Linked DNA regions of Homo sapiens. The protein of the gene in region 4 interacts with the protein of the main gene of each other region in a pairwise test. Each region holds a gene or a part of one and is shown on either strand. Other genes may lie near its edges.

Evidence for each region. Proteins that work in one complex are often made in the same cells at the same time.
Region 1: the proteins of MAGEB18 (region 4) and COQ8A interact in binary tests that used the Homo sapiens proteins (3 or more experiments, as listed by UniProt).
Region 2: the proteins of MAGEB18 (region 4) and LAMP2 interact in binary tests that used the Homo sapiens proteins (3 or more experiments, as listed by UniProt).
Region 3: the proteins of MAGEB18 (region 4) and SH3GLB1 interact in binary tests that used the Homo sapiens proteins (3 or more experiments, as listed by UniProt).

What each region holds. Positions count from the first base shown.
Region 1 is NC_000001.11:226,964,294-226,968,681, reverse strand, and holds part of COQ8A (atypical kinase COQ8A, mitochondrial), read right to left. Parts: intron 3,683-4,388; coding exon 3,272-3,682; intron 3,012-3,271; coding exon 2,945-3,011; intron 1-2,944. UniProt on the Homo sapiens protein: Atypical kinase involved in the biosynthesis of coenzyme Q, also named ubiquinone, an essential lipid-soluble electron transporter for aerobic cellular respiration.
Region 2 is NC_000023.11:120,458,409-120,462,796, forward strand, and holds part of LAMP2 (lysosome-associated membrane glycoprotein 2 isoform A precursor), read right to left. Parts: intron 1-4,388. UniProt on the Homo sapiens protein: Lysosomal membrane glycoprotein which plays an important role in lysosome biogenesis, lysosomal pH regulation and autophagy.
Region 3 is NC_000001.11:86,735,576-86,739,963, reverse strand, and holds part of SH3GLB1 (endophilin-B1), read right to left. Parts: intron 1-4,388. UniProt on the Homo sapiens protein: May be required for normal outer mitochondrial membrane dynamics. Required for coatomer-mediated retrograde transport in certain cells. May recruit other proteins to membranes with high curvature. May promote membrane fusion.
Region 4 is NC_000023.11:26,136,393-26,142,219, forward strand, and holds MAGEB18 (melanoma-associated antigen B18), read left to right. Parts: upstream 1-1,950; 5' UTR 1,951-2,075; intron 2,076-2,531; 5' UTR 2,532-2,593; coding exon 2,594-3,625; 3' UTR 3,626-3,661; intron 3,662-3,787; 3' UTR 3,788-4,344; downstream 4,345-5,827. UniProt on the Homo sapiens protein: May enhance ubiquitin ligase activity of RING-type zinc finger-containing E3 ubiquitin-protein ligases. Proposed to act through recruitment and/or stabilization of the Ubl-conjugating enzyme (E2) at the E3:substrate complex.

The sequences.
Region 1 (4,388 bases), on a different chromosome or scaffold from region 4:
GCAGCCCTACCTCCCTGAGACCTAGAGCAATCCCTTTCCTTCATAACCCCGTGTAAAAACTTCCTAAAGTCTGTCAGTCTGCACCTGAAAAACACCTTTCCTCCATGAAGGGAAGAAAGGCTAGAGGTATTTTCTAGGAGAACAAAGCGCAACAGTGCAACTACAAACTGTTTGGATGATGACCCACCAGTAAGCTATATATTTCACATTGTAGTGAAGAACATACTTAAATAGTATGTATGTCTCTGAAACTAAAATATCTTGCCATGTGTATAGTTCATTGTAAGGATGTACGATATTAATTCTAATCTTTTCTATTGAATTCCATTCTGTTTAACTTGTTTTTTGAGACAGAGTCTCACTCTGTCGCCCCCACTGGAGTGCAGTGGCGCAATCTCAGCTCACTGCAACCTCTCCCTCCTGGGCTCAAGCAATTCTTGTGCCTCAGCCTCCCGAGTAGCTGGGATTACAGTCACATGCCACCACACCTAGCTAATTTTTGTATTTTTTTAGTAGGAATTGGGGTTTCACCATGTTGGCCAGGCTGGTCTCAAACTCCTGACCTCAGGTGATTCTCCCACCTCGGCCTCCCAAAGTGCTGAGATTACAGTTAACTTGTTTTTTATATGCTGATCCTGATGCATTAAATTAATTTCACAGTTACTAAAGGGTCATAACCTACAGTTTGAAAGGTTCAACTGGGTGAGCCAGAAGGCCCAGAATTCCCCACTAGGGCCAGAACGGCACGTTCTTTCCTGACCTGGCTTCTCTTTGCTCCCATCCTGCCATCTCCAAGCCTGAAACATCATCTGTCAATTGCTTGGGCAACAACATGAGCATCTCTGAATCATAGCTGTGGGCAATCCTCCAGCACACAGACACCCACAGATGGCTCCGTACATCAGGCAGGTGTCAGCAAAGGCTCCAGAGGCTTCTGATGCTACAAAGCACCCAAGACTAGGGCTTCAACTCCACTAACCCAGGCTCCCTCTGGCTACCCATAATCCCCCACCCTCTGAGGAGAGCTCTCTACCTTTTTCTTCCTACACATCTTCCTATATATAACCCCTTCCACATCAGTCTCTGTCTTCCTTAACCCGTCACCCAAAAGGGTCTGACTACTGCCTCCTTCGCCAGGACTTCGTGGTGCTCCACCAGATTCTAATTCACCATCAAGACTTTCATTCTGACCACTTTTCCCTAACAGCCTGCATTAGCTCTACCGCTTCTCCCCACCCCACAAAGACTCCGAAGTGAGGACTGCACCAGTCCTGAAACACGTCAAACTCAGCCTTCCAGGGACAGGCTCACCAAGAGTCTAGAGTGAAAGGAAGAGGGAGGGGACAGAGAAAAGGTACCGATGTGAAAACAGGGTAGCTCCTGCCCTCAATATCATGGGGAAAGAAGACAGCCTCCATTCAATATTTTAATAAGAAATAATACATGTTACCCAATGACAAGCCAATGTGCAAAGCAAGTAACATGCCAAGTCTTCCAGGGGATAAGGACCACTAGAGGCCACCAAGGCAGTGATTCTCAAACTCATTCTGACAGCAGAACTCAGGGAGGTGTGATATTCTATGAGGGACTGCTTGAAATGTTACCCCAGGAAAAGGAAATAAGCAAATACTCTTGGCTGTCACATAGATGACACTTCATACTAAATTCCTGAATGGCTAAGTACAGTGGATGCCAAATATTAAGGTAAAAATTATGAAAGAAAACCTTACTGCTGAGAAAATTCTATCCAGTTAACCAAGTCTGCTCAGCACCTTGGAGAGGGGGGCCAGCCATCATTCAATGTCAGAACCCACACACATTACGCAGCTCCCAGAATACCAGGCTCTCGGGGAGCACAGTACGTGAGCCTCTGCCCAGAACCAGTCTTGAACAAGTAGGATGGGGTTTCCAAAAGAGAATAGGCAGGAGCGGAGGAACAGCATGTATGATGGATGGTGTATGGGAGGAAAAACATAAACCAGCAAAGAGACAGGCAGACCCATGAGAGTGCATCTCCATGCCCCACCCAGCACCAGCACCATCATGGACCACTCAGACCTCTGCTGCCTACAGCCCTGGAACTAACCACTCACCCAAGGTCAGGGTCCAAATCAAGCCACCAAAACTGTGGCTTCCATTAATTATATCACCTGGAGAACCTACTGAGGACAGCTGAGTGTTAAAGAAATGCAATCCCAGTAACTAACTTAGAGTGTACCACAGCAAAGGAGATGGCACTTTAACAGGAACATCTGGGCCAGCGCATTAGCAGCAGCATGACAAACATGATGCCATCAAAGCAGACACAACTGCTATAAACCTTCACTATAAAATCACCCTTCAACTTCTATAAAAAGAGCGCATGTGTACTGGGCACAATGACAACTCAACCCCCCAAAGTACAGACAAACGGCTTTAAACAGCAGCAGCTGGAGGCCATGGCATCTTGTCACTCCACTCATGAGCCGCAGGCCTGTGGGGACCCAGCAAATGGGCTCCCTAAATGTCTGGTCCCAGGGGGAAAGAAAGCCCTGCTGAGTTGCTGAACAGCCCCAGGGAAGAGCTTTTCCTCACTGCCCAGCCTCCTTCCTGAGAGGCCTCCAAAGCAGCCGACTGGTAGTGAACCTGAGGCAGGGGTGAAACAGAGATGCTGCAGACACCGCCTCCAGGCGAGGCCTGCCGGGCAATCCAAACTCAGCTCCTGGCACAGCATCGGCCCTGTACCAACCCGCAGGGGAGAGCCAGGCAGAGCTGGAATCCAGTAACTGAATCATCCTCCCATGAAAAACTCCAGCTCCCCAAAAGCTCATGCAGGGGCGGCCACCGCCACCTGCTCCCCCAACGCCCTCCCCGGGATATTGCTGGGTCCCCACCTCCATGCAGGCCGCAGCGTGGTGCCCAGGCAGGGCAGGTGAGGCAGTCCAGGGGCACACAGCCACCTTACCTCCGAAGTTGGCCAGCCGGCCAATCCTCGTCACAGGCACCTTCCGCTCCCGGGCATGCTCGCTGAGCTGGAGGGAGACGAGAAAGAGACCTGTGGAATCAGCCAAGGGGACAGGACCAACCTTCAGAGGCTCCTGTTGCCCCCACATCTCCTCTCCACCCCACAGTCAGCAGCTCCGCCTGACAGCACACTCCACCAAGAGAAGGCCACCACGCTCCTAAAAACCCCAGACCACAGCACCCAGGAAAAGTCCCTAGAGCAGAGCCCAAGGCCATCACTGCTGTGGGTGGCAGCTACCTCGGCCCTCCAGGGGCCTCCCATACGCACCGTCTGTTTGTGCTGCTTGTTCTCGGGGCGAGCCTTAGCCTGCCGGGCCTTCTCAATGTCCTCGGCTGTGAGGCCCCCAACAGGGGATTGGTCCTGGTGGAAGAACCTTCGCTGAAAGCCCATGGCAGAGAATGAGTCTCTGGGGTTTGCAAAGAGCCTCCCGTTGGCCCTGCCCAGAGGGGAGGAGGCCTGGCCGGGGAACCCGGCTTCTCTAAAGGGTCCACTGGCCACGTAGGCAGGAGCTGGGCCCTCGCTGTGGGCATGACCCAGGGATGGGGGCGCTGACTGGTCGGGAGCGGAGGCTGAAGAGAAGTCTGTGGAGGCTCCGGCTGCATGCGGGACTGAGAAGTGGAACTCCCCTTCTGGGCCGCCGAAGTTCTCAGCAAAATATTCTTCATGTTTATCCTGACCCTGCAGGGAGCAAAGGCCAGCATTAGGAGAGCAAGAGCGAGCCAGGAGCTCCTCCCTGCCTGTCCCCTGCTGCCCAGGACAGCACACCACCAGCATCCCGCCCCCTCCCACCTCCAGAGGTGGCACAGTGCTGCACCTGAGGCCCGGCACCCTTCCCAGCCTGGGAGCCGGGACCTGGGCTCCAGCCCTGCTTCTGTTGGGGCTCTGCTGTGTGGTCCTAGGTGGGACACTGAGCACCTACTGTGTGCCCAGCCGGGGCCAGGCCAAGTGCACACTACGCCCGCAGCGGGTTCCTCACCTATAAAACAGGGCCAAGAAGGCCTCCAGGGCTTTGGAGATGGTAAACCAGGGCGCAAAAGACAGGGAAAGCTCTGAGAGGTGAACACACAGCCTAAGGCCAGCAAGGGGTGAGGGAAGCACACCGACGGGCCCACCTAAGCCCACAGCTTACTGCAGACATGGATGCCACCCACCAGCCGGGGTATGCATGTAAGAGATCCTCACTGGAGAGGTGGTTACAACCAGGACCAGGCCTGGCCGTCCCTAAGAGCTCAGGGTACAGGGAAATGGAGGGGCAGGGGAGAGGATACGCCATGTTTTCTTTGTGATGGTCACCAAGGCCTGAGCTTCGGGCCCAGGTCCTTTCTGCTTCTGAACCAGGAGTGACCTTGAGTGAGCTCCTGACCCTTCTCTGCTACTTCCTCAT
Region 2 (4,388 bases), about 94 Mb from region 4:
AACTGACGTTTTATGAAACAAAAGGTAGAGGTTGTGGTTCAAACGTATCACTTAAAATTAAATTCAAGATAGTATACCTGGTGGCCCGTAAACAAGAGCTGAGAAACACCCTGAGGGTTCTGGCACACTCTGTTCCATTCCCTTCACAGCCTTTCTGCCTGAGTGCAATTCTTTCCACTTCTTGGTCCCCAACTCTAACTGCACAGGGACCACTTTTACTCAATATCTCTCACCTCAAACTCAGCAATTCCCAAACTAAAATTCATTCTTCTGCTTCCTCCAAACTGGGTCCCTCCTCAGCTTTGCTAGCTCTAAATGAAGAGTGGGATCAGTCACTCAAGCTCAGTTTCAGAAATAGCCTCTACTTCTTTCTCTTCAAGAAGTCCTATTGATTTTTTTCCTTCAAATCTTCTCTTAAATACAATCTTTGTCTTTTATTTCTACTCCCAATCTATCACCCCACACCTAAATTATGACAGAAAATGCCTAGATACCCCTAGAAGTGCTGCCAGATTAATAATCCTTAAGTACCATTTCCTTTTAGGACACTTTCTTGTTCAAAAACTTTTACTGGCTCCAACATTCCCATATGAAATTTAAATTCCTCTGCCTGACTTTCAAAGTAATCTTTAATCTTGTCCCATCCTATTCCTTCAACTTTTCTCAAACTATTTTCCCAGAGCACACCCTTTAATCCAGTTAAACTTGTTTCCACTGGGCTCAAATGCCATACTCTATTCAACCTCTACCCTGGGCTTCTATTGTTCCTAACACTTGAAATCTACTTTCTTCTATTGGCCTAAATGCTCACCTCAAAGATGGATTTTGCTCGCTTTTTGGCTGCCCCAAATCTGAAACACCCCTTGTCCCCTTGTTACAATTTCTGGCAGAAATCACCACCCACTATAAAAGCTGAAAACACTGGATACTTGCTTTCCCAGACTCCCTTGCAGTAAGGAGGACCACTTGTGCTAGGCTCTGCCTAACAAAGGTATCCACCCCACACTTTGAAAGGAGGGCTGCAAATGGAGCCAGGAATGGAACAGGGAGGGAGACAGGTGTGGAGTAACAGAAGCAGGATCAAGCTCCCAGGCAACAAGGCCAGCAGAGCAAGCTTCAATTTCACACTTGGCAGTGGTAGTGCAGTTCAGCAGCATGATCTGGGTTGTTGAATCCTGAACTGGGATTTGGTATATATAGCCAGGAGCACCAGAAATTCTGAGTTACCCAATATACCCCTTTAATAAACATTTGATATGTAACATATGTACAGAAACAGGCACAGTATAACAGATGTAAGGGAAAAGTGCACGTAACATTAAGTCTACAGCTCAAATAATTTCACAAACCAAAACCACCTGTGTCAAGAAACAGAACATTAACAGGTGTTGACCCACTGCACAGTTGAAAATCTGCATATTATTTTTGACTCCCCCAAAACTTAACTACTAATATCCTACTGTTGACTGGAAGCATTACCAACAACATAAACAGTCGATTCACACATATTTTGTATGTTATATATGTGTTACATACTGTGTTTTGAAAATAAAGCTAGAGAAAAGAAAATGTTAAGAAAATCATAAGGAGGGCTGGGCATGGTGGCTCACACCTATAATCCCAGCACTTTGGGAGGCTGAGGCAGACGGATCACTTGAGGTCAGGAGTTCGAGACCAGCCTGGCCAACATGGTGAAACCCCATCTCCACTAAAAATTTGCTGGGCTTGGTGGTGGTCACCTATAATCCTAGCTACTTGGGAGGCTGAGGCAGGAGAATCGCTTGAACCTGTGAGGTAGAGGTTGCAGTGAGCTGAGATCGCGCCACTGCACTCCAGCCTGGGCAACAGATAGAGACTCCGTCTCAAAAAAAAAAAATCATAACGAGGAGGAGGAAGAGGAGGGGTTGGTCTTGCTGTCTTCAGGGTGGTAGAGGTGAAATAAACTCATGTATAAGTAGATCCACACACAGTTCAAACTTGTGTTGTTCAAGGGTCAACTACACTTCCAAAGCCCTCCTTATTTCCCTTTCCCTTCCCAAGGGTTACTATTCCCTTCCCAAGGGTAACCATTATCCTGATTTCTGACACTATAGATTAATTTTATCCATTTTTCAACTTGATATAAATAAAATCATTCACTATGCTCTCTTTTGTGTCTGCTTTCTTTCCTCAATTTTAGGTTTTGTGAGATTCACCCATGTTATGCATAATTGCAGTCTGTGCTCACTGCTGTATAACCTTCTATGATCAGGTGAATACAGGCCAGGTGGGGTGGTTCACGCCTGTAATCCCAGCACTTTGGGAGGCCAAGGAGGGTGGATCACTTGAGGTCAGGAGTTCGAGACCAGCCTGGCCACCATGGCCAAATCCCACCTCTACTGAAAATATAAAAATTAGCTGGGCATGGTGGCACATGCCTGTAATCTCAGCTACTCAGGAGGCTGATACAGGAGAATCGTTTGAACCCGGGAGGCAGAGGTTGCAGTGAGCCAAGATCATGCCAATGCACTCCACCAGCCTGGGCAACAAGAATGAAACTCTGTCTCAAAAAAAAACAAAAACAAACAAACAAAAAAACTACTTATCTATGCTACCTTTAATGGGCATTTAGTTTCCAGTGTGATTCTATTACAAACACTGCTGCAAACATTCTTGCACATATTAGTAAACACATGTATGCGTGTATGTTGGCTGTATATCTAGGAATGAAACTGTGGGGCCAAAGGGTATGCATTATATCCCAGTTCTTTTTAATAAATTCTTTTCTGCTTAAAATCAATCAGATTGTATTTCTCTTCCTTGCAATTAAGAACCTGGGCTGATATGCTATCTGTTTTTTCAGTAGCCATTTTCTCCACAAAGCTTTCCCTGACTATAAAAGCCCTCAAGGAGCAGTAATAATGCACATCCCATTTCAGTATATTTTACATTATCCTGAATTATTCAGTTATTTTATAGCAGTAAATCCTGTCCCTCCTACTGTCATAAGCTCCAACACAGCAGTTTTCAACTGTCACTTCATAACAAACTGGTGTGCCATGGTAAATTATAGTATACAGTAAGTAATTTGTTACTAATAAAAAAAGTACCAAGTCTGTGAATGAATGATATATATGGATAGATTCAAGATTCCCTTTAGATAACATTTCTGTCACTCGTTTGAACTCCAGTATGCTCCCTTGATCAGATGATCTGATGTATCCCACAACCCCTAGCAGTGTGTCTTTTATATGAATGTCATCTATCATGAGTGTCATGGTAGGGGACACCATGTGTATTACTTTTCCTCTATCTCCTATCATTCCAAGTAGTGCTGAATGCATATTAGATTTTCAATAAATACTGATTAATTATATCAAGGTGAAAACACACTGCAATAGGGACCCAAAACATAGCTTAATCTAATTACAGAGAGGCCAGTCCTTTAGCTCTTCCAAATCTTGAACATATCAGTCTTCTGGATATTCCCTCAAACCCCATGTTGGGTTTCACTTCAATAAATTTTGACATGGATGTCAAGCTAGGAACAGAGCTTTTCCCAAAAGGTAAGTTTACAGTTGAAATATTTACACTTTATTAAAAAGTATCTAGCAAGCAATTTCCATCCTTATTGCTGTGTTTGATTTTACAATACCCAATTTTTAAAAGGCTTTATGACATTAAAAAACCATAGATGAATATATTCTAGAGTGTGTAATTTTAGAGCTGAGAGTTTATTCTCTAAATAAAAGAAAAAGGTATGCCTCAAAATCAACCGTTCTCAAAGTCAAATATCCTCTCAATCCTGTTTTCCAAAAAGGTCATTTGTAAATTCTTTTAGAATGCAGACCTTGACCGGGCAGTGGCTCACACCAGTAATCCTAGCACTTTGGGAGGCCAAGGGGGGCAGATCACTTGAGCTCAAGAGTTCAAGACCAGCCTGGGCAACATGGCAAGACCCCATCTATACTAAAAATACAAAAGAATAGCTGGGTGTGATGGTGCATGCCTGTGGTCTCAACTACTCGGGAGGCTGACATGGGAGGATCGCTTGAGCCCATGAGGCAGAGGTTGCAGTGAGCCAAGATCACTCCACTGCACTCCAGCTGGGGGAATGGAACAAGACCCTGTCAAAAAAAAAAAAAAAAACCTCTCACAGAGAACACAGACCTTACTTCCCCAAGTGTATGACACTGCAAAAAGTGGCTAGGTTTTTGCAAGTCTATTTGACCCAAAGTATAGCTGAAAACATAAACACACAAAATTAGGGGTGGGGGAAGAACATAATGCTAGCAATAAAACAAAACCAATAAAAAGAAACCAAACAATGATCCAAGATACAATGGATTGATTATATAATGAAGTGATTAAGAGTCCCCATTCCTGGAGTGGAAGAGCTAGAACTCAAA
Region 3 (4,388 bases), on a different chromosome or scaffold from region 4:
CATATTGACCAGGCTAATCTCAAACTCCTGAGCTCAAGTGATCTGCCCACCTTGATCTCCCAAAGTGCTGGGATTACAGGCATGAGCCACTGCGCCTGGCCAGGAAACTCTTTAATGAGCTGTCTATGCTCCTGATGCTAATTCCTCCATATGTGCACAAAATCTCATCCTTTTTTGCCTCTCTAGGGTATCACTCTAGCAATTCTTCCCTTTCCCTCCCACATTATCATATTTTCTCCACCTAGTGTATCATTCCCATCAGCTTACAAACATGCCCTTATTTCTCCTATCTTAAAAAACAAGCAAAAAATTGCTAGACCCCACTTTCTCCTCCGACTACTGCCTCATTCCTCTGTTCCCCTTTACACCAAAACCCCTTGAAAGATTTACGTATTCTTACGGTCACAATTCCTCTCCTCCGAGTCTCTTATATTACAAACATTACTTTGCGCCTACTGTTTCACCAAAACTACTCGTCAAGGTTAGCAATGACTTTAATGTTCCTAAATCCAATGGTCAATTCGTAGTCCTCTCACTTGACCTAGGCAGTGACCATTCTCTCCCACTTTCACACATGTTCACTTGACTTCCAGGCCATACTCTTAGTTTCCATTTTACCTCACTGCCTCACTCGTTATCATCTTCCTTGCCTCGTTCCTCAACTCTCTATGCTAGAGTACTTCAGGGATCAGTCCTTGATCCTCTCCTTTTCTCTATACTTACTCCTTTGAGGGTTTATCTAGTCTCACAGATTTAAATATCTTTGATATGCTGACAACTCTCTAATTATCTAATTCACCCTGCCCCCAATCCAAGTCCAGACCTGCATATCCTAAAATTGGATACCTCCACTTAAATGTTTAAGAGACATCTCAAACTTAACATATTTAAAACTGGGCTTCTAATATAACTGACATACTTCCCAGACCTCCATCCCTGAAATCTTTGCCTCCTCTGGCATTCCCCATTTTAACTATCTACAACTCCCCATTCTTTCAGTTACTTAGGTCAAAAACTTGCAGATGGACGTGGTGGCTCACGCCTATAATCCCAGCACTTTGAGAGGCTGAGGCGGGCAGATAGCCTGAGGCCAGGAGTTCAAGACCAGCCTGGCTAACATGGTGAAACCCCTTTTCTACTAAAAATGCAAAAAATTAGCTGGGCATGGTGGCGCACACCTGTAATCCTAGCTACTTGGGAGGCTGAGGCAGGAGAATCTCTTGAACCCGGGAGGCAGAGGTTGCAGTGAGCCGAAGTTGCGCCATTGTACTCCACCTTGGACTGGAAGAGTGAAACTCTGTCTCTAAAACAAAACAAAACAAAACCTTGCAATAATTCTTGACCTCTTTGTGTCCAATATACATACAGTCTGTCAAGCAAATCCTTCTGGCTTTAAGTCTAAAATACACCCACAGTCACGCCTGTAATCCCAGCACTTTGGGAGGCCGAGGCGGGCAGATCACAAGGTCAGGAGATCGAGACCATCCTGGCTAACACGGTGAAACCCTGTCTCTACTAAAAATACAAAAAATTAGCTGGGTGTGGTGGTGGGTGCCTGTAGTCCCCGCTACTCGGGTGGCTGAGGCAGGAGAATGGCATAAACCCAGATGGAGGAGCTTGCAGTGAGCCGAGATTGCGCCACTGCACTCCAGCCTGGGCAACAGAGCAAGACTCTGTCTCAAAAAAACAAAACAAAACAAAACAAAACAAACAAACAAAAAACAAACAACACCCACAGGCCCACAGGACCTGACCACTTCCATCCTACCTACCACAATTACCCTGATCCAAGCCACTGCCATCTTCTGACTGAATTACTGACTACATTATTGCAATAAGTTTGAAACAGATCAGTCAGCTTCCACCCAACACCTATCCTCAACGTGGCAGCCAGAATGATTCTGTTAAAGCCTAAAATTATGTCACTCTTCAGCTCAAAATTTCCAAAGGCGCCTCATCTCTGAGTAAAGACCAAAGTCGAAGCCCTATATGTTTTGGCTCCCCGTTTCCTCTACTCGTCTCTAGCCAAGCCCTCCTTGCTGTTCCTTGACCATACCAGCTATGTCATGCCCTCAGGGTTTTTGTACTTGCTGCACCCTCTACCTGGAGCATCTTCTCTCAGATGCCTGCATGTGTGCTTTCTCACGTCTTTCTCTACTCCCATCAAAGTAGTTTCCTGCTATATTTTCCGGTACACCATTTTCACCTTCTAATATACTATATAATTTATATACATATTGCTTTTCTGCTCCCTTCTGCCCCCATATAGAATGTAGATTCCAGGAAGGCAGGAATTTTGATTATTTTATTTATATACTATATCCCCCACATCTGGAACAGTACATTTTAAAAATGAAAAGCAAATGTTTCTCTGATGGATAAAGGGTGAAATAGTTTTAAATATAGCTTTTCCTCTCTAAAATTAAGACCACCTGTCCTAGTATCCTTTCCTCAGTGAACTCGGTTCTTCAGTAGGGATTAAATACATACATTTCTGAAGATAAGAAAAAGCTCTATTTATATGAATATGTATATACACATGGCTTTTTTAGTTCTCTAACCATATTTTACTTCCAAATCTACTAGTATGATTTTAGCCTTTGATTAGCCACTGAAGTGTACCTATGTCAATTTTGCAGAGTTAAAGATTTAAAAAATGAACTGAAAGGCCATTTTTACCTTCTAAGAACTTTTATTGATACGTTAAAAAATCATAGCAATTACTCATTCTATAAAAATGTCAATTAAGCCACTGGAGCTTGAAATGCAAAAGCCTTCCAATTATTAAAAAAATTGCTAATCTTGTGACTAGTACTTCTGCTTTCTCATCTTTAAAATATGGATAATAATAGTACCTACCTCATTTGGTGGTGAGGATTATAAAGTTAATAATACACATGAGGTGTCTGGAAGAGCACCTATGCACAACTTAAGCTCAACCAAAGTGATGGCTGTTATTCAGTTACTTCTACTACCTGTTGGTACTGTTATTGCAACTATTAACAATACAATCTGGTTCTCTTCTTCATAAATAGTTTTTGAATGTGTTAGTGTGAAGCTGGATGATTTGTCAAGTTCTATATTTGAATATTTCTATGTATTATCTTAAAAAGCATAACCTGCAACAAATTAAAGAGATAAAACTTCCTCCAATGTCATTGGTCATTAGCAATAATATAATTGAGGGTGGAGAGACAAGCTAGACTTTCTTTTCTAGAATAGTAGCACTGGTTTTACTTTGTATTGCTGGAGCTTATCTCAAAGAGCAGTAATAACGCAACAACTGGATTTTGTTTAAATGGCCAAGTCCTAAGCATAGTGTGGCTTTAAGTAGAATGCGAGTATAAGCAACCCCTATGCCGCACTTCCAGAGTTTCAGGATAAAGTGGAAAAAAGTACTAAGGCTTCTTGGGCTTAAAATAGTTATAATGATGTGAAGATAAAGTGCTGTTCTGCCTTGAGATATTAACACCACTAATAAAACCTCAAATATATAGTTATGTAAATGCTCCTGTATATTCTATTAAAATAACTAATGATTAGGCTACCATTCATTTTTGAGGTTCAAAATTGGTTTCATGGACGTGCTCAATTTTATTCTAGGCCAAGTTTTGAAGTGTTAATGTGCAGAAACAAACACCAAAGTGACTTTATTTACCTTATTCCTTGAAACGATTTTTTGATATTCATCCTTCAAATGCTACATATCGCTCCCCTGCTTTAATGGTTCCTCAATATATAAATTCCAAACTCCTTACAACAACTTACTTTAAAAGCCATTCATGGTATGACCCTGCTTAACTCCTCTAGATTCATCTACCATTCCATTCTTGAACACTATGCTCCAGCCTGAATGGACTACTATCAGTTCCCCGAACTTTCCCTACTCTCTTTCTTCTGGCTTTTTTATAAACATATTCTTCCTTGCTTAGAATATTCATCCCTGTCCCTTTCTTCATCTAGATTATTCCTACCAAGATAACTTCACCTGGGAAACTCTGCTAGATGTACCTCAGTCACAGTTAGATGCCTTCACAATACCAGGCACCTTCTGCTTTTCTGCCTACCACATGGCCTGTCTACCAACGGCTTGCTTTGTATTTCTACCTAGGCTAAGTGTTGTGAGAGCAGAGACCATGTTTGCCCTAAACATTATTTTATTTTCAGTGTCACCTTATAATGTGAGCTCCATAAAGGCAAGCATCTTTGCCTGTTTTGTTTGCTGATATTACCCCACAATATGTAACAGTGCTTGGCACATGGCAGATAGTCAATAAATACGTGATGAATGAGTGATTGAGCTTTGTGTTTTACATACTGTCATTTTGCTTTGAAGTATATTAACATACTCAAAATAATCACATCGGTAGATATGAGGTCTTACGAAA
Region 4 (5,827 bases):
CATGGCATATGTTTACCTATGTGACACGTGTTTACCTATGTGACACAAACCACCATGGCACATGTTTACATATGTGACAAACCTGCACACGTACCCCAGAACTTAAAAGTTGAAGAAAAAAAGAGAAAATGTAATAACAATCCCATTATGTGGGCAAAGGACATGAACAAACACTTTTCAAAAGAAGATATACATATGGCCACAAGCATATGAAAAAAAGCTCAACATCATTGATCATTGATGAGAAACGCAAATCAAAACCACAGTGAAATACCATCTCACAACAAATAACTAATTAGAAAATGTAACAATGTAAAAAATAGAATGACTATTACCAAAAAGTCAAGAAAATAACAGATGCTGGAGAGGTTGTGGAGAAAAAGGAATGCTTACACACTGTTGGTGGGAGTATGAATTAGTTTAACCAGTGTGGAAAGCAGTGTGGTGATTCCTCAAAGAGCTGAAAACAAAACTACCATTCCACCCAGCAATCCTATGACTGGGTAGATACCCAAAGGAATATAAATTATTCTATCATAAAGGTACATTCACACATGTGTTCATTGTATTACTATTCAAGAGAGCAAAGGCATAGACTCAACCAAAATGTCCATCAATGGTAGACTGGCTAACAAAAACGTGACACATATACATCATGGAATACTATGCAGCCATAAAAGAAGATCATGCCCTTTTCAAGAACATGGATGGAACTGGAGGCCATTATTCTTAGCAAACTAAAATAAAAACAGAAAACCAAATACCACATGTTCTCACTTATAAGTGGGAGCTAAATGATGGGAACACATGGACACATATAGCGGAACAATGGATACTGGGGCCTTTTAGAAGGTGGAGGGTGGGAGGAAGGAGAGGGTCAGGAAAAATAACTAATAGGTGCTAGACTTAATACAAGGCTGATAAAATAATCTGTACAACAAACCCCCATGACACGAGTTTACCTATATAACAAACCTACACATATACTCCTGTACTTAAAATAAAGGTTAAAGAAAAAGAAGCCTCAAGGAATCTTGTAAAAACATTTGTGCTACCTCAAGACTTTAAGTCATGAAATTCACTGTGAACTGGATTAGGATCTTACGCGAGGGGCATAAGTAAAGCTTTTCAGAAATTCAAAGCTGACTCAGCCAGTGTAGTAGAAACAAAACAAACATAATATACAAAGCATTAAATTGAAAGTAATGGTTCCAAATAAGGAAAGATCCTAGCTACTTAAGATTTTCTCTGAGAAGTTCTTTTCTGGATTACTTTTAGTGCCTGAATGAAAGATCCTTTGATGTTTCTGTCATCCTCATTTTTCTCCTAATGTACCATCCTGAAAATCTATTTCAATAAATTTGAGAGGGCTTTAAAAATAAAAAAAAATGGAATGAAAAATATACCATTCAAAAGAGCAGCAACATTCAAAATATACCTAAAAAGAACATTCACAAAAACATACACACTCTATCAAAGCAAATATAAAAATGTGTTGATAGACTTAGGTGGATGCCTAAGTACAGCAATACAATATGTTTATATATGGTGAACATAATATTGTACAGATGTCAATTATCTTTATTTACAGATTTAGTGCCTTATTTGATGGCCTCAAGTCAGCAGAGAAGTGGCCCAGCACCTACAAAAAGTCAAGATAAGACACTGAGTGAGGACTGAGGGCATTACCTACCCAAGAAGAGGGACCCCCACAGAGCCCCGCCCCTACTGTCAATCTTGGGAGTCCCCAGGCGTGGCTGCTGGGCTCAGGTTCCACCTTACTTCCTACTCTGGACTCAGGGAAATGATCCTTTTTCTGAGGCTGACTGATTCAGCTTAGCAAAGAGAGAAGTCCCAGTGCCTGCAAAGTCAATGAAAGAAATATATGTATTTCTTTAAGAACTGCCCCTCCCCCGAACGCAGAACCATTTGCCGTTAAGCTGGGAGAGCAAAGTGGGCGTGGCCGGACATGTTTCTCTTGACCTATCTTCCACATCATCAAGCTGTTACGGGCGAAACCTTGGTCTGAAACATGCGGCCAGAGAAATAAATCTCAGGATCCGGCAGGTGTCAAAGTGAGTATCATTTGTTATGACCTTCAAGACACACTCTTCCCAGAACAGAGGCTGCCTCACAGAGACCCATCCTTCTCTGCTCTGTCCTGCTCCCACTTTCAACTCTCTGTGTCCCAAAGCGCAGCTGTTAGGCCTAACACCCTTACTTCCTGTTGGGAATCTGTGGGATGGGAAGCCATGGTCTAAAGCGAGGCAGCCTCAAGTCAACAGACGGAGGACTCAAAAGACTAAAGTAAAATTAATATCCTAAGTTAGAACTGATGTAGTCAGGAGTAAAATTAATATCCTGAGTTAGAACTGATGTGACAACCCCCCACAGAACAGTCCCACCCCGCTCCTGCCTTATGGGTTCCTAAAGCAATACCCTCAAGAGAACCAGGAGAGGTGGCCATTCTTAGACCAAGGTAGAATCTCCCTACCAAGGCTGTGAACACTATCTCATCCTCCGTCTTCTAGGGTGCCCTCTTCATCAATTCAACTGCCTGCACTATTGTCTGTAGTCCCTGACAAGAGTAATTATGCCTCGAGGTCAGAAGAGTAAGCTCCGTGCCCGTGAGAAACGCCACCAGGCTCGTTGTGAGAATCAGGATCTGGGAGCTACGCAGGCCACTGTGGCAGAAGGAGAGTCACCCTCCCCTGCCTATCTTCTCTTTGGTGACAGACCCCAGAATTTGCCTGCTGCTGAGACACCTAGCATCCCTGAAGCGCTTCAGGGAGCCCCATCCACCACCAATGCTATTGCACCTGTTTCATGCAGTTCAAATGAAGGTGCCAGCAGCCAAGATGAGAAAAGTCTAGGTTCCTCAAGGGAAGCTGAGGGCTGGAAAGAAGATCCTTTAAACAAGAAAGTAGTGTCGCTGGTGCATTTCTTGCTTCAGAAGTATGAAACGAAAGAGCCAATTACAAAGGGAGATATGATAAAGTTTGTTATCAGGAAGGATAAGTGTCACTTCAATGAGATCCTCAAGAGAGCCTCTGAGCACATGGAGCTGGCACTTGGTGTTGATTTGAAGGAAGTGGATCCCATCAGGCACTACTATGCCTTTTTCAGCAAATTAGACCTCACCTATGATGAAACAACCAGTGATGAAGAAAAAATTCCCAAGACTGGCCTCCTGATGATTGCACTGGGTGTGATCTTTCTGAATGGCAACCGTGCCCCAGAAGAGGCAGTCTGGGAAATTATGAATATGATGGGTGTATATGCCGATAGGAAGCACTTCCTCTATGGGGATCCCAGGAAGGTCATGACCAAAGATTTGGTGCAGCTAAAGTACCTGGAGTACCAGCAAGTGCCCAACAGTGATCCTCCACGCTATGAATTCCTGTGGGGTCCAAGAGCTCACGCTGAAACTAGCAAGATGAAAGTCCTGGAGTTTGTAGCCAAGATACATGATACCGTCCCTAGTGCCTTCCCATCCTGCTATGAAGAGGCTTTGAGGGATGAGGAACAGAGAACCCAAGCCAGAGCTGCAGCCAGGGCTCATACTGCTGCCATGGCAAATGCACGTTCCAGAACCACGTCTAGCAGCTTCTCCCATGCTAAGTGAAATCTGAGGCTTGTTCTTCACTTTTTGGTCGAAAAGGTCTGTCAACATTCTAATAGTGGAGGGCCATGGTGGGGCTGGAAGAAATAAGTGTATATCATCTTTGCATTCCTATTGTATATTGATAACTCGAGTTTTACTTTTCCATCTTTTTGTTTCCCCTAGGTTACATTTCAAATGTTCAAGTCTGAAGATTGTTTTCTTTGTGGAAGAGAAGAGCAGTCAACATTCTAAGTAGTGAATGGCCAGAGTGCGTCTGGAGGGAACACAGCATATATCATTTTGTGTTAATAGTCTATAGTAACTCGGAGTTGTATCTTTTTCTTTCTTTTTTTTTTGGTGTTATATTTCAAATGTTGTTGCTTATAATAGAAGTTTTAGATAACTTCAGAATCTATATTTATTAATGACTTTGGTTACACACGTATTGCTATTTAAGAGTAGGAGTTTTATTGTTCTGTAAAACAAATTGGGAAACCTTCTTTCATATTTAATGAGCCAGAACAAGGAAACACAGTATTGGAATAGGTATTTCCTTAAAAAATGTGAGATGATTTAGCAGTAAAATTTTGGAGATCAAAACATAGGTGAGAAAAAGTAAACTTTTCAGTTCTTGGTTTTCTTTTTCCATTTTAGTCTGTTATATAAAAATAAAAGTCATACCTGGATTGGCTTAGCTTACTGAAGAAGGTAGGAAGAAATAAAATGTTTATGAACCAGCATCTATGCTTACCGGCTCATTCATTCCTCCAATATTAATCCAACATCTGATTTTTGAAAGTAATTTTGTTAGAAATGGGAAAACCAGGATACAAAACACCCACCTCTGCTTAGACTTTTACAATTAATGAACAGTAATAATGTATGGAAGATGGTGAAATACTTCTAAGACCTAAAGGACAAGTAACAAGAGGGAGTAAGGAGGTAAGGAGTTAGAGAGGGGTTTGGGAAAAGTGCTGAAGTGTATCTGGCTGAAAATGGTAAGGTGCAAATTCTCTGAAGAAAGGCCCTTTTAGACTTTTGGAAACTTTGAGTCTCTCAGTGGGATATACTTTTAATTTAAGCTGGGTGGTGGGCTAGATGAAGCTTTGGGACTGGAGAGCAGAGGCCAGGCACTCAGATGGTGTGTCTCATTGTTGAAGGACAAAACCCTGGAGTGGAAAGCTCCACTTAAGAGTTACCTTGGTGACATCAATAAACCAGAAGAAAACCTCGGCCGGGCGCAGTGGCTCACGCCTGTAATCCCAGCACTTTGGGAGGCCGAGGCGGGCAGATCACGAGGTCAGGAGATTGAGACCATCCTGGCTAACATGGTGAAACCCCATCTCTACTAAAAATACAAAAAAATTAGCTGGGCATGGTGGAGGGCGCCTGTAGTCCCAGCTACTTTGGAGGCTGAGGCAGAGAATTGCTTGAACCTAGGAGGCGAAGCTTGCAGTGAGCCGAGATCTTGCCACTGTGCTCCAGCCTGGGTGACAGAGCGAGACTCTGTCTTAAAAAAAAAAAAAAAAAAAAAAAAAAAATCTCTTGGGGCAGAAGTGAGAAGTGGATAGTGTCCTGTGCTCTTGTTCACATTCAGTTGAACACATAGCACAATCTACTTATTTTATGCACAGCCTCTCCAGGAAATTTTTGAGAAATAATGGTGAAACTGCCTTGATGTGGGATGCTGAAAAGCTACTGTGTTGGCTCCTTTGCTCTGAACTGAGAGAGCCAAATCCTAGTATTTAAAAGGACATATTTTTGAGACAGGGTCTGGTTCTTTTCCCCAGGCTGGAACACAGTGGTGCAATCATGGCTCACTATAGCCTTGACTTCCCAGGCTCAAGCAATCCTCCCACATTAGCCTCTCAAGTAGCTGGGACTAGAATCACACATCACCCTACCCAGCAAATTTTTTGTATTTTTGTACAGACAGGGTTTCACTGTGTCACCAAGGCTGGTCTTGAACTCCTGACATCAAGTGATCCACCCACTTCAGCCTCCCAAAGTACTGGGAATACAGGTGTGAACCACCACACTCATCTTAAAAGGATATTTTAATTAAGTTATCTTCAGTATAATTTGGCAAACTCTAAGGGAGAACATATTTGATGATGATGAAATGAATGAAAATAGGGGTGGTTTGGATGGAATGGCACCTGGGAGGGAAGTTGTTGGTCCTTGACACAAATTCTAGGACTTTGTGTTTCATTCAACTGGGGA